Linked DNA regions of Homo sapiens: all the other regions are reported to be linked to region 2. The links are microRNA targets in miRTarBase. Many come from high-throughput screens and were not tested one by one. Region 2 holds a microRNA gene; each other region holds the end of a gene's coding sequence.

Region 1 (5,152 bases), not on the chromosome of region 2:
AGGAGGATCACTTGAGGCCAGGTGTTTGAGACCAGTCTGAGCAACATAGCGAAACCCCATTTCTACAAAAATACAAGAGTTAGCTGGGTGTGGTGTTATGTGCCTGTAATCCCAGCTACTCAGGAGGCTGAGGGATGAGAATCACTTGAACCCAGGAAGAGGAGGTTACAGTCAGCCCAGACCATGCCATTGAACTCCAGCCTGGGTGACAGAGTGAGACTCTGTTTCAAAAAAAAGAAAAAAAATCTAGTCAGTGCTAAAAGGAACTTTTGATATCTTCATTCCATCTTCAGTCTATGGTTGAGAGTTGATCTGTTCAACATCAGCAAGCTAGTTGATGGCTGGGTCTATGGTCTAGGACCTCTCTGTTACCTGATTCCTAAGCTAAGACTCTTCATAGAAAACACATTGAGTCAATTCTCCCTCTGTTTCTCTCTCTCTCTCTCTCTCTCACACACACACACACAATTTACCTTAATATAGTTATTGTAGAGCAATCTAAACAAGCATATTTTTATACAAATTTACATGTTGTACTGTGTACTTACTTATCAGCCTTTTCTTTTGGCAGGAGAGCACAAAAATAAAATACATTAAAAAACCAGCGCAGAACCTGCTACATTATGGATTTTCAAAAACAACAACAAAAAAGTCTTTCTTTTATCCGATCGACTGAATTAGATTCCAGTAGGTGTGGAAATATATTAAAGTGTTCTCAGAAATATGTCATAGAAATTCACTAAGCACAATATTAATCTAACTCTAAACTAGAATATGCGTCTGCACTGACTTTATTTCCTACAAATAGACAACATTCTCCAGCCTCACCTGCCTGTTTCTTTCCTTAACTATGTAACAGATGTACCAAGAGTTATTCTATGTTTCTAGATTATGTATTTCCTTTCATATTGAAATGATGCATATATTTCTTTCCTGTGTACATATACCCACCAAACTTTTCCAGTAGTAATGAAACTCTCAAAAACTTTCTAAAGTAATGTGATGCTAGAAAATGCTAGTAAAAGCTAACCAATATACAATATATGCATGGAGTAGGAAGTTATAATTCCTTCTACTTGTAAATGTGACCTAATTACATTCTGCCTTCTTAAATTTCAAAAATAACATATATAAGCTGGTCTATCAAAATGTTTTAAACACCTAATTATCCACAATATAGAATTTGTTTCAACTTTAAACTAAACAAATGTATCTGCCTCTGAGCAGTAAACAATGGTTAGTGATATTTAGATAATAAAGTTAACTTCACAGAAACACCCAAATCTTGTATCTAGTAAGGATTTATTATAACAAATATTGAATAATTTATTATTTAAATGGTTAGAATAAAGTTCAAGGGAAATATAAGCAAACTACTTCTTTCTCTAACAATCTGAAATACATGGGGGTTTAAACCTTCTATATTTTTGTCAAAATAGTAATTAACCATAGATGACAGATGCTGCTCCCTAGTCAATGGAGGGTCTCAAATTTTACTCTGCATCTCATTGGGAAGGAAATATAAATTTTTAAAATAGAATTAACTTAGGGAAAGGCATCAGTGCTGCAACTCTTAGCACCAAATGTTTTTTCTTGGAGCACCAAATGCTCTAAGGAAAACATTCCAAGTATCAAAGTTTTCAGATAGATAAATATTTATGGATCAAATCCATAAAGAACAGACATTGTTATGAAATATATATAGATGCCTTCAAAACTTTCTTTCTAGGCAGAGTAGACACATAAGTTAGGAGTCATTTCCCACTTAATTGTTTTTGCAACCTTATGCAACACGAATGGATTATGTGCAAGACTTATTCATTTTTACACAGAAAGTAGATCTTGACTGACATGGTGTCCAGAAAATCAAACAGAAGCTATTTCTCTATATAAAATATAAAGTGCCATTAAATTTATAGAAATGGCTTCATTTTAATCTTTTTTTGGTGGAAAAGTATAGGGATTTTTGATCTGGTCTTTTGGTAAGAAAATAACACTCTTCAAAACAAATTCTTTTCAACTGCTAGTTAGTATAATTGGAGAAAAGCATAAAACAGATCTGGTTCATATCTTTAAGGGCAATGAAATTCCATCAGTCTTTGAACTTTATTAATGATATTTTTTCAGTCTACATATAGACCACTGCCACTTCCTCTTCATTAAGAGCTCTTCATAGTAGCTGTATAACAATCTACAGAAAGTTATTTTTCCATTTAAAGGCAGAGGTTAATTTTCATTGTTCATGCAGCAAAATGTAAGTATGCTACATAATTCTAGAGAAATTTGAAGTAGTTACCAAAGAAACATAGCCTTAGCTTCTGTAGTATTCTCAATGATATTAAAATAGCAATAATTGGTGTGCACTCATCAGAAATGAAGTGCCCATTTAAGGAAGCCACATTAGGTCTTGTTCCAGATGCAAATGCAGAACAAAGGGATACAATAACTCATTGCAGAAAGGGTTGGGTATACTATATCAGGCTTCCAAGTTACACTTGCATATGCAGCTACTGCCAATAGTATCATCTGTGAACATGAGGGACATTTTGGAACTGAATAGAATTCCATCCCTGAAACTAAGCATAACAACTGCATATTCAACCCAAGAAGGCATTAGCTTTATGTGGGCTTAAAGAAATGGTAGCACAGGCATAGGTAAAATTTTTATTTATGAATGTGTGGACACATGACTTTGGATCCAGCCAGCCAGTGACATAAATAAACTTGAGCAAAAGTTTCAAGCTAGAGGATATATATGTATAGAAAATTATATATTTGTGTGTGTGTGTAAGGCCTCTTGGAACAGTGCCACAAACCTGGACACCAACCAACAGAATACTCCCGTCCTTTGAAATTTCCATTAAGAGCACAATGGGGGTAATTATACCAGGATGCTCCAATCGCTCTTTCCATCTTGTGCACTCACATGCCCGCCAAACATGAAATGTTCGCCTTCTCCCTTCCAATGTGATGGTTGTTGAACTTATTTTTAGTGTCATTTGATAAGCCTTTGTGCTCACAGAGAGACATCCCACTGACCCAGCCACTGGTCATTGTCTATACCAGTTCACATCAAAGCAGGCGCACTTTGTCAGGTTTCCACTCGAATATCCATTTCGCATCTGAAGTACAGTATCGAAAGTGACTAGATCATTTGAGCTTTTTTCTTCAGCTGCTGCCTTCCTCCCCCACGGTGTTTCTGCTCACGCTAACATAATTTGGCATCGTCGACGTGACACGATGGTGGTTTTTCTAAAAAATTATAATACATACATCGTCAATGTTTTGTGATAGCGACCCTCCAGAAGATTTAATTTGTAAATTGAAGAAAGGTGGTCTTTTTCCTCTACTGAATCATAACCAAGGTAGAGTGCCCCTCAAAATCCAAGTAATGCGCATACAGTAATAGGTCATTCAATGTCAAAAGGCATAAAAAAGATGAGCAAAATCTTCACAGGCTGCTGCTTGCTGTTGCTTTTAATTATATTAATTAAACTTTGAAATTTTAATGCAAAGAGAGTTGCTGGCTTGTGACGCTGAAGAGCCCTTGGAGACTTGAAGAAAGAAAAAACCCTGAGCGGAAGCTTTGTGGTTACTGCTTCCTTTAAATTAAAAGCAAAACAAACTTCTAGGTATGTTTATGGATATTAATGCTTTATGCACTACTAAATCCTAAACACAGGAAAAGGGGGAATCTACTAGTCACAGGGACAAGTTCGCAAAAAATGAGTCCCTTGCACTACACTCAAGATCTCTGGCTAGAGGCCTTCTGTGGAATAACGCTCTATTAATTTTCTTGTCCCGAGTGCATAATGAAAGAAAGGTGTCTTCGAAAACTAAAGGGCAAAATCTTGCTTGCTACCAATACCTTGAGGCATCTTGTCTACATTTTGTCATGCGTGTGCACTTTTCAGTGTTAGAATGACAAGATTTTCCAGTCAGAAACTTCCCATAAGGCACACTGTGATAGAGCACTTGGAAGGATTCTGTGATCTGACATAGCTATAAGGCAATGGACTTCTTTATTTGCTTAGCCTGGTGGGAAATTTCATACTCTGCCTATGGATAAAGATCTTGCCACATAAAAACACAAGTGCCATGTTTCCATGTAAAAAACTCCTGTCTCCCATCATGGCTAGTTGTTTTGTGGTCCTTGTTTTGGTATCATCTTCGTGTTGTTGCTGTTGTTGCTTTTTCCTCTTCTACACATTCAAACAAACTTTCTTGTACAAACCATAGTCTGCAGGTCAATGTTCCTCTTTATTTTCAATGTCATAAATCATGAGTTACCACTGAGTTTCATCACCTCCCATGTAGATGGCAGAACAAGTGTTTAGAAATGTTTGGTGCAAGCAAAGCAGAAGGCAGAGAAAACATTTCCCGACTGAGAGGAATTAAGCTGCTCTTCCAAAAGCTTCTGAAATGCACTTGATTTTTTTCATTTGGTTGAAAATCAGCTATGTGAAAATGTGCCATCTTCGTACCTTCTTGGTCTTCCTGCTTCCCTTTTACTGAGATGGAACTCGGGAGAAGTTTATGCACCGGCCCTGAAGAAAGAAATAAATCCATATTGAAATATTGAAGCCATTATTTAAAAAAGCATGAGAACATCTAGTTTTCCTACCATGATAATAAATGATTACCCAAGGAAAGTACCATGTTAACTTGAGACATGAAGTCATAATTTTTTTTTCTTGGGTTAAAGCATGATGGTTCATTCAGATCTTTTCCACAGTAAGTTCACCTATGAGATGGTATGGTATAATTAATATGGAAAAACAATTATGGAAATAGAATGTTACTATTATCTAAAATACAGCATTACTATCACGGCCATAAAAATATCAAAGCCACAACCCAATATACTTCTTTATGTAATGAATTAAAATGAAAATATTTTCTTATGCAAGCTGATGCTCCTAAAATGCATACATGAGGATCACATTTAGTAAGCAGTAAGAGACTGAGGATGAGGAATCCCAAAAAAGGTATTGTCATCTCTTTGTAATTCCCTTTTATGAAGGATTTTTGCAAAATCATGTCCATTGTTACTGACCATTTCTCACCACTGCACACCACCATGATGTGTTCATTTCAAATGGTGACTATCTGCACTTACACATTTCTAAAGAGGATTTGCCATTCTAATTTC
Region 2 (5,152 bases):
CATCTCTACTAATAAGAAAAATTAGCCGGGCATGGTGGCGTGCACTTATAGTCCCAGCTACTCAGGAGGCTAAGGCAGGAGAATTGCATGAACACGGGAGCCCGGAAGGTGGAGAATGCAGTGAGCCGAGATCATGCCACTGCACTCCAGCCTGGGCGACAGAGCAAGACTCTGTCTCAAAAAAAAAAAAAAAAAGGGCCGGCAATATGGCTCACACCTATAATCCTAGCACTTTGGGAGGCTGAGGCAGGAGGATCACTTGAGCCCAGGAGATCAAGACGAGCCTGGGCAATGTGGCAAAACCCCATCTCTACAATAACAACAACAACAAAAAACAAAAAAAGAAAAATTAGCCGGGCGTGGTGGCAAACATCTGTAGTCCTAGCTACTCAGGAGGCTGAGGTGGGAGGACCACCTGAGCCTGGGAAGGTCAAGATTGACACTGCACTCCAGTCTCGGAAACAGAGTGAGATCCTGTGTCAAAAAAAAAAAAAAAAAAAAAAAAAGGTAAAACAGGTAATCTTAAAAAAAAAAAATTATTTCACCTAATCCTCCCAACAATGCCATGAGATAGGTATCATTATACCATTTTGCAGATATTGCAGCTTACAGAAGTCAAGTCACTGCCAAAGATAACGAGTTGTGGAGCTGGGGTTGTAATCCAGGAATCCAGAAAATCAAGTTTAGAGTTGGCACTCTTAACCACTATAACTATGCCATACTGCCCTCCTGATTTCTGTTCTTTAAGGCCTAGCTACATAAACTCACATAGTTCTAAGAGCTGACCCTTGCCTATGACAGCATCTGGTTTTCCAAGGATGTCAAGCTAGAGGCTCAAGGGCATGCCAATCTCTTCTACCAATCCTCCCACCTACCGCTTCTTGGCGATTTCATTCTGCCGTTTCACCTTTTCTTCCTCAAACTCCCGGATGTTGCGCACACCAATCTCCCGACAAAACTCTTCAAACACCTCATCCTCTACCTGAGAAGAGAAGCCAGGGAGGGCATCGGCCCTTTTAGTCTGTCCTGCTTCCAGTCCCAGTCCTGCCCTGACACACACGCTGGCATGGCCCACACCCTACCAACCTGGTTCATCTTCTCCTTCAAGTCTTTCATTTCCCTCTCTCGGCTCTGAATGATCCTCTTGATATCATTAATGCGAGGCCCAAAGTTGGCTAGCTCACTCTCCAGCTTGGATTTTTCCTACAGGCAATGGGTTGAGAGGACAAAGCAGACCAGGCTCCTTGGAGAAAAAGCTACCTTGACTGCATTGGCCCCACAGTCAGGAAGGGCTAGCTCTCCACAACTGAGAGAACCTGGCTTAGCACTACTGCCCTAGTCAAGCCTCCATGATGTTGCACTGAAGCCATCACATGGCTTCTTCCCTGGCATCCAGTTCAGCCAGCTTCAATCCACAGGGCTGGGGACACAGTAAACATCATTAGGTATAGGTCCCAGTCTTTGATCTACAACCCCTGGGGGCAGAGTTGTTTCAGAATTCAGTTTAGATTTTTTGAGTTTAGAAAAAGATATATAAATACACACACTACATATAAAACCTCTAGGGCGGTCTGGGGAAGTAGTCAGTAAAAAAAACAAAACACATTAATATACCTAGAACAGTCCCCCCCCGCCCCGCCCACTACCACAAGCAGGGACTGAAATGCCCATAGCTCACTTTCAAAAATTCAAATTTGTTGAATGAATAAATTATGCTAACAATAGCACATAACATAAACTGAACACATGGTAGTCTTAAGCACTTTACATGTTAACTCATTCAATAATGACCCTATAAAGTAGGTATCATTTATTTATTTTGAGACAGAGTCTCGCTCTGTCACCCAGGCTGGAGTACAATGGCATGATCTCGGCTCACTGCAACCTCCACCTCCCGGGTTCAAGCAATTCTCCTGCCTCAGCCTCCCAAGTAGCTGGGATTACAGGCGCCTGCCACCACGCCCAGCTAATTTTTTGTATTTGTAGTAGAGACAGGTTTGGCCAGGCTGGTCTCCAACTCCTGACCTCAGGTGATCCACAGGTGATCCACCGTGCCCGGCCGAGTAGGTATCATCTTAACTCGCATTTCACAGATAAAGATGTGAAGGTTGACACTGAAAGGTGAAAATACTTGCCTAATGTCAAACTCAAGGCAGAGCCAAGCTCTGAACCCCTGGCTGTCTGACTCTATGCTATACCTGACTCCCTGCGGCAGGCTGGGAGGAGACGGGGAAGTGAAACAAGTTCCCCACCCCCAGAGAAACCTAGGCCAGGAATGTGTGGATGGCCTTTGGAGAACAGGGCTGAAGGCCAGGCCCCACCTGCAGATTCAGGGCTAGATGTCGTGTCTTGGTCTGTTCTAGGTCACTCTGGGAGTACTTGAGCCGCATCTGCAGTCCATGGGCCTGAGACTGCACCTGACGCAGCTCTGCCTCTTTCCGTTTTGCCTTCATCTGCTCCTGAAGGGAACAAGAAAGAAGGGCTAGGTGGTAAGGTGGTGGCTGACCTAGGCTTAGGACTCCCACTGCTAAAAACAGCACTGCCTGTGGCTTACTTTCAGCTCCTCTGTCAAGCGCTCCTTCTTCTCTTTCAACTTGTCTACTGCTTTCTCATCCCAGCGCCGTGCCTTGGCCTTCAGGTCACTGGCCCCACCAGAGATCACTCCTGACTTCTGGAATAGGGTTCCATCCAGTGCCACTGTCTACACACAGCAGGGGGAAGAGAGAAGAGGGGGAGAAGCTGAACAAATGAATCTCCAGTACTGAGCCTGTCCAGCTCCAGCCTGGGCAAGGGAATCCACACCTTGTGGCGCTGGTGGCCTCCAAAGGCAATGCGGCGGGCATCTTCCACGTTGTCACAGACAAGGGCATTGCCACAAGCATACTGCAGGGCCTTTTTGATATGAGGTGGCTCATAGCGAATCACATCAATCACTAGCTTGGCCCCCTTCAGCTCCCGGAGTTTCTCATCTGTAGGCTTCACCTGTGGGGAGAAGCTCAGTCAGTGGCAGAACACAAACAGGGAGTACTAGAGGAGGGGCCCTTGAACACTGGCCTGACCCAATCCCCAACAAGCCTCACCTCCAGGTAGTCAAGAGGCAAGAAGGTCTCAGGCTCCCCACGCTGCTCCTTGATATACTGAATACAGTCCCGGCCTGTCTTCTCCGAGTCCACAATAATGGCATCCATGTTCTTGCCCAAAACCTTGGTTACAGCAATCTGATACTTCTTTTGTGTGGGCTGGCATAGGTCAATGAGGCGGCCGTACTGAGTAAAGTAGGAAGGGAAAACTGAAGTATGAAGCTTTTGGAAGCTGGCTCAGGAATCCTAATTCCCAGTATGGAAAGGGGGACAGACTAGAATCTATATCAGGAAGTGAATGCAACTGTATTGCCTAGTGGTTAAGATAACCCAATACCAAGCATGGTAGTGTGTGTTTGTAATCCTAGCTACTTGGGAGGTTGCAATGGGAGGACAGCTTAAGCCCAGGAGTTCAAGACCAGCCTGGGCAACATAATGAGACCCTGTCTCAAAACAAACAAAAAAGACAGCCCACTAGTTCTGTACCCATGCAACCCTACCCTATCTGAATGAGACTGTATGGACTGAGGAGGAGGCAATTGCAGACTAGCTTGCTGTGTGCACTCCAGATCAGCACAGTGGCCAATCCTAACGTCCCTTTGAAAGGTGGAAAAGTTTGGGTAAGAGAAGGGAGGTAAAGAAATGAATAAATGAGTTATGTAATGAGGGAAACTCAGTATTACATTAACACCTCAAAAGAGGTTCAGAGCAAGAGATGATATTGTCTCTTAGCACAATTATCCCAGATGCCTGAAAGTATGAAGCTATGTTTGCCGAGAACACTCCTGGTTTTGGAACCTAACAAGATTGAATAGAAGCCTGCAAACCTGAATGGCCTCACCCTAGGAGACATTTTTACATGACATGATCATGGACTAGACTAATTATTAATTAATGACTCAGTGGGATTCTAGTAATGTGCCAGTATCTTTCTACTCTTTTTTGGAGACGGAGTCTCACTCTGTTGCCCACGCTGAAGTGCAGTGGCGCAATCTTGGCTCACTGCAACCTCCACCTCCCAGGTTCAAGTGATTCTCCTGCCTTAGCCTCCCGAGTAGCTGGGATTACAGGTGCCCGCCACCATGCCCGGCTAATTTTTGTATTTTTAGTAGAGACGGGGTTTCACCATGTTGGCCAGGCTGATCTCAAACCCCTGACCTCCGATGATCTGCCCGCCTCGGCCTCCCAAAGTGCGAGGATTACAGGCGTGAGCTACCGCTCCCAGCATCTTTCTATTTATTACATGATTGTTCTGATGTAAGGGATCTGTGTTTGAAGATCAAAGTGGACTGTGGTTTTATGAAATATATATTTAGTCTTCTACCCGTGAGTTCCTGACACACAACTCCTAAAACCCTTAGAATCTCAGGAATGAGCAGTGTCTTTTGTATGTTAATGAGATGATTATGGCTGGAGGCCCATAGATAGCTTCTGGATAGGGGCTGGTTACCAGAAAGACCAAGGCAGGATTAGATTTGGGACTCTTAGCTCCACCCCTACAACCTTCAGGAGGGGAGAGGGGCTGAAGGTTGAACTGATCACCGATGGCTGATGATCTGATCAATCATGACTACATAATGAAGCCCCTGTGTGGGGGTACCTGGAGGGTGGCTTGCCCAGATTGGGCATGGAAGCTTCACATCTCTTCTCCCATACCTTGCCTTATGCATCCATCTGGCTGTTCTCTGTATCCTTTGTAATATCCTTCATAATAAATGGGTAAACATAAGTAAAACATTTTCCTGAGTTCTGTGAGCTGCACTAGTAAATTAATCGAACCCAGGGAGGGATTCTCGGGAACTGTAATTTATAGCAGGTCAGTCAGAACCACAAGTCACAACCTGAGACTTGCAATTGGCACCTGAAGTCTTGGACTGAGCCCCTAACCCACAGGATCTGATGCTATCTCCAGATAAATAGTGTCAGAGCTGAAGTGAATTATAGGTCACCCAGCTGGTGTCTGCTGGAGAATTGCTTGGTGTGTGAGGAAAAACCCCCACACTTCTGGTGTCAGAAGTGAAGTGTTGTGCTGGTTGTGAGAGTAGAAAAAACACTTTGGTTTTTTCCTATCT
Region 3 (5,152 bases), not on the chromosome of region 2:
CCAGGAAGTTTTGAAATTCAAGGACAGATAGGGTTAAGTCATAGCCCCAAACTACAGATTAGCCCAGCAAGGTCCTCCAAATCTTTTGCAATACACATTTGGTAATACGTGGGTCATTTAGTTCTGGCTTCCAGGCAGTTCAGCTAAAGGCTTAGGCTAGAGAATTGCAAAAGCTTATGATTTCTCACCAAGGAATGAAATGTGACGCAGTAGAGCAAACTGCAGACATTTAATACCAGATGTTAATGTAAAAATTGGAAAATTGTGACCCCCCCCCCCCACACGGTTATCTGACCCATGGCCTGCAGAATTCCATCACAAAGTCTGTAAGTCATCATTATTCCTGGATTCCTACACTATTAACTTTGTGCCTACTCTTTGTAGTGTAAAATAATAATTCTGAGTCATATAACTGAGATAATTAGATTATATCAATCTTGAGGCATTTTGTGCACACACTAACAGAGTAATTCAATTTCTTACCATAAAAATCAGAAGTAGAGCTTTTCTCATTAGTTGGATTTCCTAGTGACTTTTTAGAAATAGTTTGAGACATTTTTATTTCCTTTGCCTTCCACACCTACCTGACGTCACTAAATGCTGTAGGAAAGGAAGGAAGGAAGGGAGATTTTTCTTATTTGCACTGAAAGGTAAAAGAACATTTGAAACATATATTTCTGAACATTTTTACATTTATTTACACTTTTCCCTAAATCTGCACACTTTACATCTACACAGACACAATACAGTTTATGTAAGAATGATACACAAACTGCAAAGTGCTCTATAACTATGAAGAAAATTGTTCAAGCTCTGTTGCTTCAACTTCGGTCCCAAGGGAACAAAGGCTCAAAGAATCTCCTCTAAGCCCAGATTCAAGGTAGGGAGGACTTTTAAATGAGCTCTTCTTAACAGGACATGAGTATCTTACCTTCACATCTGGATACTTTTGTTACTCAAAATGATGAGAGAGGAAAGGAGGGTGTGGAGATACCTTCATGAATCATTAACAAGAAACAGCATTCAACTGACCCAGGTAAAATGCCACCACAGGGTTTAGCAGCTCTGTGGTGAGCTGAGAGAAAAGCCAGAGACAGCAGTGCATCAGGGGCTAGTCTAGAGAAATACAAACCAGTACAACAGCCTGAAGAGCCAGGCCCTGCCCTCAAGAGAACATCCAAGTCAGTTTCTTCTCTCTCTCTCTCTCTCTCTCTCTATATATATATATATATAGAAAATCTGTCTCTCTAACAAAGGCAATTGCAAATACACAACAGACAACACTGACAAGAACAGCTCACAGATTGGGTAAATGAGAAAAGGGCTTTAAGACCATCCTGTCCCAATTTCTCTATCAATGGACAAGGACACCAAGGCCTGGAGAAGTCAGGTGGCATGCCCCAGCTCACACAGATCAGCACCATCACTGTGACAGGAAGCCAGGGCTCCCGGCCCCCATTCTGGTAAGATTTTCTTGTTCTCACACAAGATGTGAAGGAAATTTTACTATTCAAGAGTCAAATATAATCCACTTTTTTTTTCTTTGAGGGATTACATTTATTTTTCAGAGAGTCAGATTATCTCAAAAAAACATATAACTGGAAAACTCTTTTCTCCCTCCCACCATCCTTTCCTCCATTACTTTTTCCTCTCTTGCTTTATCTGTCTTACTTTCTTCCTTCCTCTCTCTCTTTCTTTCCTTCATAAGTATATACATCTGGAGGCAGAGGAGAGAGCCAAAGATAGCAGAGCTAAGTCAGGGAAACACAATTTGCAATTACCTATAATAGCTCAAAACTTGGGCTGAGATTTTAAAAACACAAGATTATCAGCTTAAATCTAGAAAAAATAGTTTTTCTTTCCAAATAATTTGATAACATTTATGTAAAATTAAAATGTTATTATTCCCCAGTGCCCCCACCATCACTACCCACCTCTCATCACTTTTCATCTTCAGGTTCAAAATAATCCCTGGCGCTTGTAATTGAATGATCTCGCAATGGGTGTGTGAGTTTACTTGGATCTCATGGGGCCAAAGTAAGCTGATAATATGTTTCTCTCACAATCATCCACACTATTTGTTTATAAACAGCCTTATTTAATTTAAACTGGACTTGCAAAATTGGACCACTTCTAATCTTTCCTATCCCTTACACATAGGTCCAATTGTTTCATTTTATTCTTGACTCTGATTCTAAGAATGAGTACATTTTCCCCAGCATGTAAAGGAGAGAAAAAAATACCCGTGGACTAATGTAACAAAAATCTCCCCAATGAATTTCCCATAAAGAAGAGATAAAACATCAAGTACCAATAGTGCCAAAACATTTACTGAAAGTTTTCAAATCTTGCAAAAATGTTACAAAAAGTGAGCAAATGTGGTGAAACTAATGACAAATTAGACATTGAAAACCAACATCTGGTTAAGTGTAGGCAGGCATGTAAGGGAAAGACAACGTCCATAGGCAGTTACTATGGTAAAGGACTGCATTTGACTCTTTTACACATATTATTTCATTTGATCCCATTTAGGAAAGATTATCCCAGACTTGAAAATTTTGGTTTTAAAAAATTGTGACCTATAGATATCACATTAGCTCATTATCCATCAAACTCACTCAAGTGTCACCTGACTCTCTTGGGAAATGTAACTTTGTCTGACCAAGAATTTAATAGGGACCAGATTAAGGACTCTGTAGAATTAGAAGTTGATTTGTAGAAAACCATTAAGACATGATGCTTTATTTTTGCTTTCTGGTAGAGAAATGTACCTCCACGGTTATAATTTTATTTCCCTGTAGGACCCTAACCAGTTTTATATCTTTCTGGCAATTTCATTTTATCAAAGCCTTCCTCACTGACTATTTAGATTCCAGTTTTTTCATATTCTCTTCCAATTGCTCTGTTATACTGATGTTGAGTTAACTGGAACTTAACTCATCTGTTTATGAAATAATTATGTTTTTAATAATTTCAGAGTTTGTGCTTTGACAGACAATCATCAACCAACCACATGAGGTAGGTAGTATGTCCTCATTTTACAGAGGAAGAAACTGAGTCTCAGAGAAGGCACATTATCGTCCAAGTTTATAGAGGTAAGAAGTGACAGAACTGAGGTTTTCACACAAATATGCCCGAATCACTTTATGGAAAATACACTGATGATTCATATGTGGACTGAAATTTGAGCTGCAACATCTCCAAAAAAACAACCTTACCTACATATGTTTACTACATGTTTGAATTATAAACATGACAGCTGAGTATCAAAAGCAACTAATTTTAAACAATCTAAACCTGAGTTTTTAAATAGTAATTAAAACAATTATTTATTAATTTGTTTGGCTTCAATTCTGAAGCTTTAAAAATTGGAAATGTTGAAAATATTTGCCCATAGACTATGTGGAATATTATCATTAAAGTGTGAAATTCCAGTGCTTTGCTGATTCTATTAATGGTCTGGATGATGCTCAGCAAATTACTACTGAGGTTGTTAGAAAAGCCATTGAAAAGTATTTAGAATACTTAGTGGCGAGCCTCTCTCACATTTCATAAGCATGTCCTTACATGACACAGACTGAGAGCTTTTTGAATAAATTTGATCAAATTACCAGCCTATCCTGCTGCAAAGATGTTCAGTCTCCTTTGTCCCTAGACTGGTATAAAAATGAGAAACACAAGCACACTTTTGTATTCTTCAGGCTTGGAAGCCATTTGTTGTCCTGGCTGAACAGACAGGTAGATATCAAGACTAAAGAGTGACATGCAACTCAGTCTGAAAGCAACACAGTACACGCTTTAAATTTTAAAAGTATACCTTGGGAAAGGCTGATCTTACAGATACATGTTTATCTGTCAATAGGCATGCTTTTCAGCTTGGATATATACCTTTAAAATGCACCCTTTTATCCGCCTGAGGATCCATTCAGTGAATATGCAGCTTTACAAGTTTTTCTCCATAAATAAGATTCTAAAGTTCAGGTCAATTGGTATCTAGGTTGATTTAAAAAAAAAAAAAATCTGTACTTGTAACAGCGAGTGTTTTGTCCACCAAATCACAAACCAGACAGTGACCCTCTGGCCTGGTTTTCCATAGCGCACACTCCTGTTTGATGGGCACTGGCAGTTGTCTGCCGCAGATTTAAGTTAAGTGAGGCAATCTGCCTGCCCCACCTCTTGCCTCAAATCTCAAACTCTGGAGCCAGCAGAATTTCAGCTCCACCTGAAGTGAAAAGATAACTACGTGGTTTAAATTCATATTGACTCACAGTTTCACTGTTTTATCCTGGCTAAAGCTGCTCACGGTGTCTGTGGTTTTCTTACATAAATTTTCAATCCAGCTAGTGCTATTATAATGTGTCTTTTCCAGCCCTGATGTTGGGGGTGGATTTTTAGCTCGCATATTTTTTCCAGATGTGATAAGCTCTCCATAGCCTTCTTGGTGAGCAAAAGCATATCCAGACCTTCTTGAGCTTGACCTGCGGGTCCGAGGCCTTCGGCTACTTGGAGGCCTTGCCTTCTTTTGAGCCTTCTGCCACCGGCGGATCTGGAGAGAAACAGACCCAAAGTGAGATGATGCATCCAAATGATAGACTCCAGGCAGTGGCCCACTTTGTAAAGTGAAAGCCTTTTTTTTTTATAAGTAAAAACAACATTGCAAAAGGAAGTTTTAAATCTAAAAACTAAGAAATTTTCCACCCAAAAGATAACACTGGGGGGGCACTGGTCCATTTTTATCTCTATCGAGACACTATTAAGTAATTAAGAAATATCAGACAAATTTCATTATTGTCTCTCATGTATCTTCAATGCATATGAGCATACATTTGTATAGAAAGATTTTCTAACATGCACCGCCCAAAGTCAGCATAATAATTTATAATTTCATTCTCCCAAAACAGCCTTTTTCCTCTCTTTTAGAGATTCTCTGGATCCAACAGTTGTCAGTAACTGGACTAGAAGAAAATTCAGAAAATGAGTCAGAAATATTCAATTCTTGTGGTAGCTCAACGTATCATGAGACTTCCAGGGTTTTGATTTCTTAGGTTTGTATGGCCTTTCTAAATGTTCCCTATTATGTGAGTAGGTTTCCCACAACTCTTTCATTCCCCTGTAAAGCTAAGGAGAAAAAGACCTGAGGTTTGCTGTACTC
Region 4 (5,152 bases), not on the chromosome of region 2:
TGGAAGATCTATAATGTATGTGGCAGACACTGAGGGCAGCCCTGGGAATGCGGAGATGAACAGGACAGAATAAGAAGTCTAGAGGGGAAAACAGAGATCAAATAATTACGAATAGGATAAGAGTCTCAAAGGAGAAGAATAGGGGGCCGGGCGCGATGGCTCATGCCTGTAATCCAAGCACTTTGGGAGGCCGAGGCAGGTGGATCACCTGAGATCAAGAGTTTGAGACCAGCCTGACCAACATGGTGAAACCCTGTCTCTACTAAAAATACAAAATTAGTCGGGCATGGTGGCGCATGCTTGCAATCTCAGCTACTTGGGAGGCTAAGGCAGGAGAATTGCTTGAACCCAGGAGGTGGAGGTTGCAGTGAGCCGAGATTGCACCATTGCACTCCAACCTGAGCAACAAGAGTGAAACCCCATCTCAAAAAACAAGAAACAAAAACAAAAAAAAACCCAACAACAACAAGAAAAACAAAAGGGGGAATGATAGGGGTATTTAATAGGAAAGCTGACCCAAACTGGAGTGGGGGAAGCATGGAAGACACCCCTGATGCTGTGACTCTTAATCTGGTGTGCAAGGTGTAAGTCGAAATTATGTAGGGTGAAGAGGTAAGAGAGGTGTGTATCAGGTAGTGGCAACTGCACATGCCAAGGCCCTGAGGAAAGAGAGGAGGGTGTAAAGTAAAGAAGGATGGCTGGGCCTGAGACAACTTCAAGGAGTGAGGGTGGCAAAAGATGAGGCCAGAGAGATAGGTGGGTGCTGGATTAGGGAATGAACTAGAAGCTACATAAAGGATTGGGGGCTTTATGCAAAGGTCTCTGAGAAGCCATGGAATCATTTTAAGCACGGGCGTAACATGATCAGGTCTGTGTTTTAAAAAGATCACTCTGGCGGGGCGTGGTGGCTCACGCCTGTAATCCCAGCACTTTGGGAGGCCGAGGCGGGCGGATCACGAGGTCAGGAGATCGAGACCATCCTGGCTAACACGGTGAAACCTCGTCTCTACTAAAAATACAAAAAATTAGCCGGGCGTGGTGGCAGGCGCCTGTAGTACCAGCTACTTGGGAGGCTGAGGCAGGAGAATGGCATGAACCCAGGAGGCGGAGCTTGCAATGAGCCGAGACTGCACCACTGCAGTCCAGCTTGGGCCACAGAGCAAGACTCCATCTCAAAAAAAAAAAAAAAAAAAGATCACTCTGACTGTTGCTCAAGGAAGGCTCATGGGGTAGCAGTGGAAGCAGGGGGCACATTTTGGAGGCTGATCAGATGAGGATGGCTTGAGTTGGGGAAGCACCAGTGAAGATGGAGAAGCTGGAGGTGTTTGTGATCTATTTCCCAGGGGTGTTGCAGACAGGACCTGTTGATGGGTTATGTGAAGGGTGGGTGGTCAGGGAAGGAAGGCATCTTTGAGCAGAGACCTGGGGGCGTTGAGGGAGTGAACCATGTGGGTATGATGTGTGGGGCAAATGTTTTCAAGGGGAGGGCACAGCAAGTGTGAAAAAGAAAGAGGGGATGTGTTAGTCCATTTTCGGCTGCTATGAAGGAATACCTGAGGCTGGGGAATTAATAAAGAAAACAGGTTTATTTGGTTCATGGTTATACAGGCTGTCCAAGAAACATGGCACCAGCATCTGCTTTTGGTGAGGGCTTCGGGCTACTTCCATTCATGGTGGAGGGGGAAGGAGAGTGTATTAGTCCGTTTTCATGCTGCTGATAAAGACATACCTAAGACTGGGTAATTTATAAAGAAAAAAACGTTTAGTGGACTCACAGTTCCATGTGGCTGGGGAGGCCTCACAATCAGGGTGGAAGGTGAAAGCCACGTCTTACATGGTGGCAGACAAGAGAGAATGAGAGCCAAATGAAAAGGGAAACCCTTTATAAAACCATCAGCTCTCGTGAGACGTATTCACTATCATGAGAACAGTATGGGGGAAACCACCCCCATGATTCAATTATCTCCCACCAGGGTCCTCTCATATTATGGGAGCTACAATTCAAGATGAGATTTGGGTAGGGACACAGCCAAACCATATTAGAGAGCCAGCATTTCACATGAGAGGGAGCAAAAGAGAGGGGAAGTGTTCTATGCCCTTTTAAACAATCAACTGTCCTGTGAATTAATAGAGGTGGGACTGAGAGCCTGAATAGAGGGGGTTTAAAGAGACTAGGTTGGAACAAGATGCCAGCCAGAAGCTAAGGGGACAGTGTCCAGGCTGAGGAGCAGGGCTGGCAATCCAAGCAGGGTCTCTGAACCACAGCCAAGAGATCTGGGGAGCAGAGCAGAGCTTCAGACCCCAGGAGGAGAATCTGAAGTACAAAAAAGACAACTTAGAAAGAAGGAAAAGTCTAGAACATGAACCTGGAGAGCCAGATGGGGAGGAAGGCTACAGCTGGAGTGAACTCTGGTGCCAGGCTCAGGGCAGCAAGACTGATGGCAGATGCTTCCGTTGGTGGGGAGAGGACTTAGCTTACATTGTTAGGCTCAGACGGGCTGACCATGACAGGAGGGGAATGAAACCAGCCATGCAGGTCTTCCGTGCTCACAGCTGACCAGAGCGGTGGTTCTCGACCCTGACTGTACATTTCAAAAATCTGGGAAGCTTTTCAAAAAATACAGTGTTCTGCCCCCAGCCTCAAAGCATCCCTATTCATTTTTCTCCAATGGAGCTGGCCCCATTTTCAAACATCTTCCCAGATGACTGTGTTGTGCAGGCAGCGCTGAGAACTGCTGTTCTCCACTTCAGCTTATTCCTGTGTTTGGGACTGAGCCAGTGTGGGAGGCACCTTGAGATAACGGGAGCTATAGAGATAGTCAGCCCTGGCATCTGAGGGCAATGACTGCTGTAAGCACTGAAGGAATTTGTTGACTTTCCCCAGAAGAGCAATCCTCATAACACTGACCAAAATGAACATCCTGATTAATTATGCAGGTTTATAGCTCCCCAGAGGCTGCAGAAAAACATCATTTGGCACCAGAAACAAACTTTATTCTGGCAATGCAGGATAATTTTACAAACATTAGATACTGAATTGTGCATATATCTCTGGAATTTCAATGTACTACATCCATAGAATGCAGAAAAACAAGGTCAGGGCCAATTTCTCACGCTGCCACCTGGACCAAGCAGTTCCAGGAATCCTCTGGGTTCTCTCAGCCCTCTTGTTCCAGATTTCAGTGGTGTCCTGGGCAGATGTGGTTTTTGTCTGGATTTCTCTCTTTGGGGAAATGCTTCTAACCCATTATATGCAGTTTGGATGGGCTGTCAGTGACAACAGGTAACCCCACCTCTGTCTGTGGGGATGTGGTCCAGGACTAGCCAGTCCTGGCAACAGTGATTGGCTCAAGAGGTAGACATGGAATTCAAAAGAGGCCCATAAGCATTGTTTTTTAGGTTTAATATATGGATAATGGCAAAGTTCTCTCCTGAAGATATAAAGCTGGAAAATGAGTCTGGGTTTATCATTTGTCATTGTCCACACACTGTGTGGGTAAATGAAGAAGATTGCTAGAGAGAGAGGAAAACCTAGGGATGAGAGAGAGGAAGACAGAGGGGAGACTGAGAGAGAGAGAGAGAGAGAGGGGCAGAGAGAGGCAGAGAGACAGAGAAGAGAGAGAAGCAGAGAGGGGGAGACAGACAGAGAGAGAGAAGAGAGACAGAAACTGAGACAGAAAGGAGACAGGCCAGGCGTGGTGGCTCACGCCTGTAATCTCAGCATTTGGGAGGCTGAGGCCGGTGGATCACTTGAGACCAGGAGTTCGTGACCAGCCTGGCCAACATAGTGAAACCCTGTCTTTACTAAAACGCAAAAATTAGCTGGACTTGGTGGCACATGCCTATAATCCCAGCTACTCAGGAGGCTGAGGCGTGAGAATCGCTTGAACCTGGGAGGTGGGGGTTTCAGTGAGCTGAGATAGCACCACTGCACTCCAGCCTGGGCTACAGAGTGAAACTCCATCTCAAAAAAAAGAAAAAGAGAGAGAGAGAGAGAGAGAGAGAGAGAGACAGACAGAGATAGGGGAGAGAAAGAAAGAAGGGGGAAAGACAGAGACAGATGGAGGTGGGGGAGAGAGATAAGGAGAGAGGCAGAGAAGGAGAGAGAGAGTTCTGGCAATGCAATGCCTAGTTCCAGGCCTCCCGACTCTGGTACCTCAGTCTTGTGAGCTCTCCCTGCAGCCTTTAAGGGTTAAGCCCTTTGGAGCTGGGTTTGTGTCCCTGGCGACAGAAGGCATTTTGACTAGGGCAGAAGGTTTCTTGTCGACCTCATGGGAGGCCAGACGTGCGGGGTATGCACTGGAGAGTGAGGCAGGCATGGTCAAAGAGCTTGTGCGGCAGCTGTCCCTGGGATGTCCAGGTGTCCGTCTCGGGGTCGTAGCAATCGAAGGAGGCGGAGTCCTCAATGTTGCAGTCCGTGGTCAGCCGCCGCCCGCCCGTCACGTAGAGTTTGTTTCCCATCACTGTGGCCCCATGGTGCATCCTCCGGTCTTTCATGTCCGCACATTTGACAAATTTGTTGGATTGAGGGTCATAAGCAAGAATCCTCCTTGTGTAACCTGAAAACCAAATGACACATGGGCAAGCTCAGTGTTGCTCATCTGGGACTGGAGGTCAGCAGTCCTGGGACGCGTCTGACTCCTGCCACTGCGTAAGGCTGAGGCTGGGGCTCTGAACTAGCACGTGGGATGTTGAGCTAACCTGCCAAGGCCTGCTTTGTGGCAGAGTGGGGGCTGGCACGCAAATCTGCCTGACTCTGACCTTCACCCCAAGTTAAGGCAGCATATAAGCCATTCTTAGATTGGGAGCGGCCTCCTGATTCCTGTAACTTTCTCAGCCTCATTGGCCTCTTCCTCTCTCAAATGCCCACTCAAGAACTATGACAATCCTTTGGAAACTCAGAAGTGGGTTCCCCACACCAGTCCTATCTGGTAGTTACTTTTAGGATCCTCGTTTTATGGATGGACAAACTGAGGCACAGAAAGATGTTTAACTTGCTAAAAAGTATATAGCCAGTTAGTGACAGAGCCAGGATTTGAGCCCAGTTCCATCTGACCCCAATACCAGTCCTCTTAACCATGACACTATGATTTGATTACAGAGAAACAAACTATTAGTAGCTAATATTATAAGCAGAAGCAAACATGTTTTA

What was found. Region 2 holds the annotated microRNA hsa-miR-6857-3p (UGACUGAGCUUCUCCCCACAG, at 2,983-3,003, opposite strand). A microRNA usually pairs through its seed, bases 2 to 8, with sites in the 3' UTR of a target mRNA and lowers its output. Matches are read on the target gene's strand: a 7mer-m8 pairs with bases 2 to 8, a 7mer-A1 pairs with bases 2 to 7 and ends in A, and an 8mer does both.
Region 1: miRTarBase lists ANTXR2 as a target of hsa-miR-6857-3p. Seed matches in the 3' UTR shown: 7mer-m8 at 4,383-4,389 and 7mer-A1 at 1,844-1,850.
Region 3: miRTarBase lists ATP8B4 as a target of hsa-miR-6857-3p. Seed matches in the 3' UTR shown: 7mer-m8 at 3,576-3,582.
Region 4: miRTarBase lists KLHL38 as a target of hsa-miR-6857-3p. Seed matches in the 3' UTR shown: 7mer-m8 at 3,563-3,569.

The regions. Positions count from the first base shown.
Region 1 is chr4:79,902,921-79,908,072 of GRCh38, forward strand. It overlaps ANTXR2 (ANTXR cell adhesion molecule 2), which reads right to left. Exons shown (of 17, transcript NM_058172.6): 17 at 1-4,547. The coding sequence ends at 4,509. Among named protein-coding and RNA genes, the nearest start is that of PCAT4, 78 kb to the left of the region's middle.
Region 2 is chrX:53,402,691-53,407,842 of GRCh38, forward strand. It overlaps MIR6857 (microRNA 6857), which reads right to left and starts at 3,075; the gene lies at 2,983-3,075. It overlaps SMC1A (structural maintenance of chromosomes 1A), which reads right to left. Exons shown (of 25, transcript NM_006306.4): 10 at 3,081-3,266; 11 at 2,803-2,982; 12 at 2,555-2,701; 13 at 2,322-2,459; 14 at 1,087-1,203; 15 at 876-982.
Region 3 is chr15:49,855,930-49,861,081 of GRCh38, forward strand. ATP8B4 (ATPase phospholipid transporting 8B4 (putative)) reads right to left here. Exons shown (of 28, transcript NM_024837.4): 28 at 2,309-4,546. The coding sequence ends at 4,265. Among named protein-coding and RNA genes, the nearest start is that of DTWD1, 240 kb to the left of the region's middle.
Region 4 is chr8:123,641,470-123,646,621 of GRCh38, forward strand. KLHL38 (kelch like family member 38) reads right to left here. Exons shown (of 4, transcript NM_001081675.3): 4 at 2,973-4,559. The coding sequence ends at 4,270. Among named protein-coding and RNA genes, the nearest start is that of KLHL38, 9.8 kb to the right of the region's middle.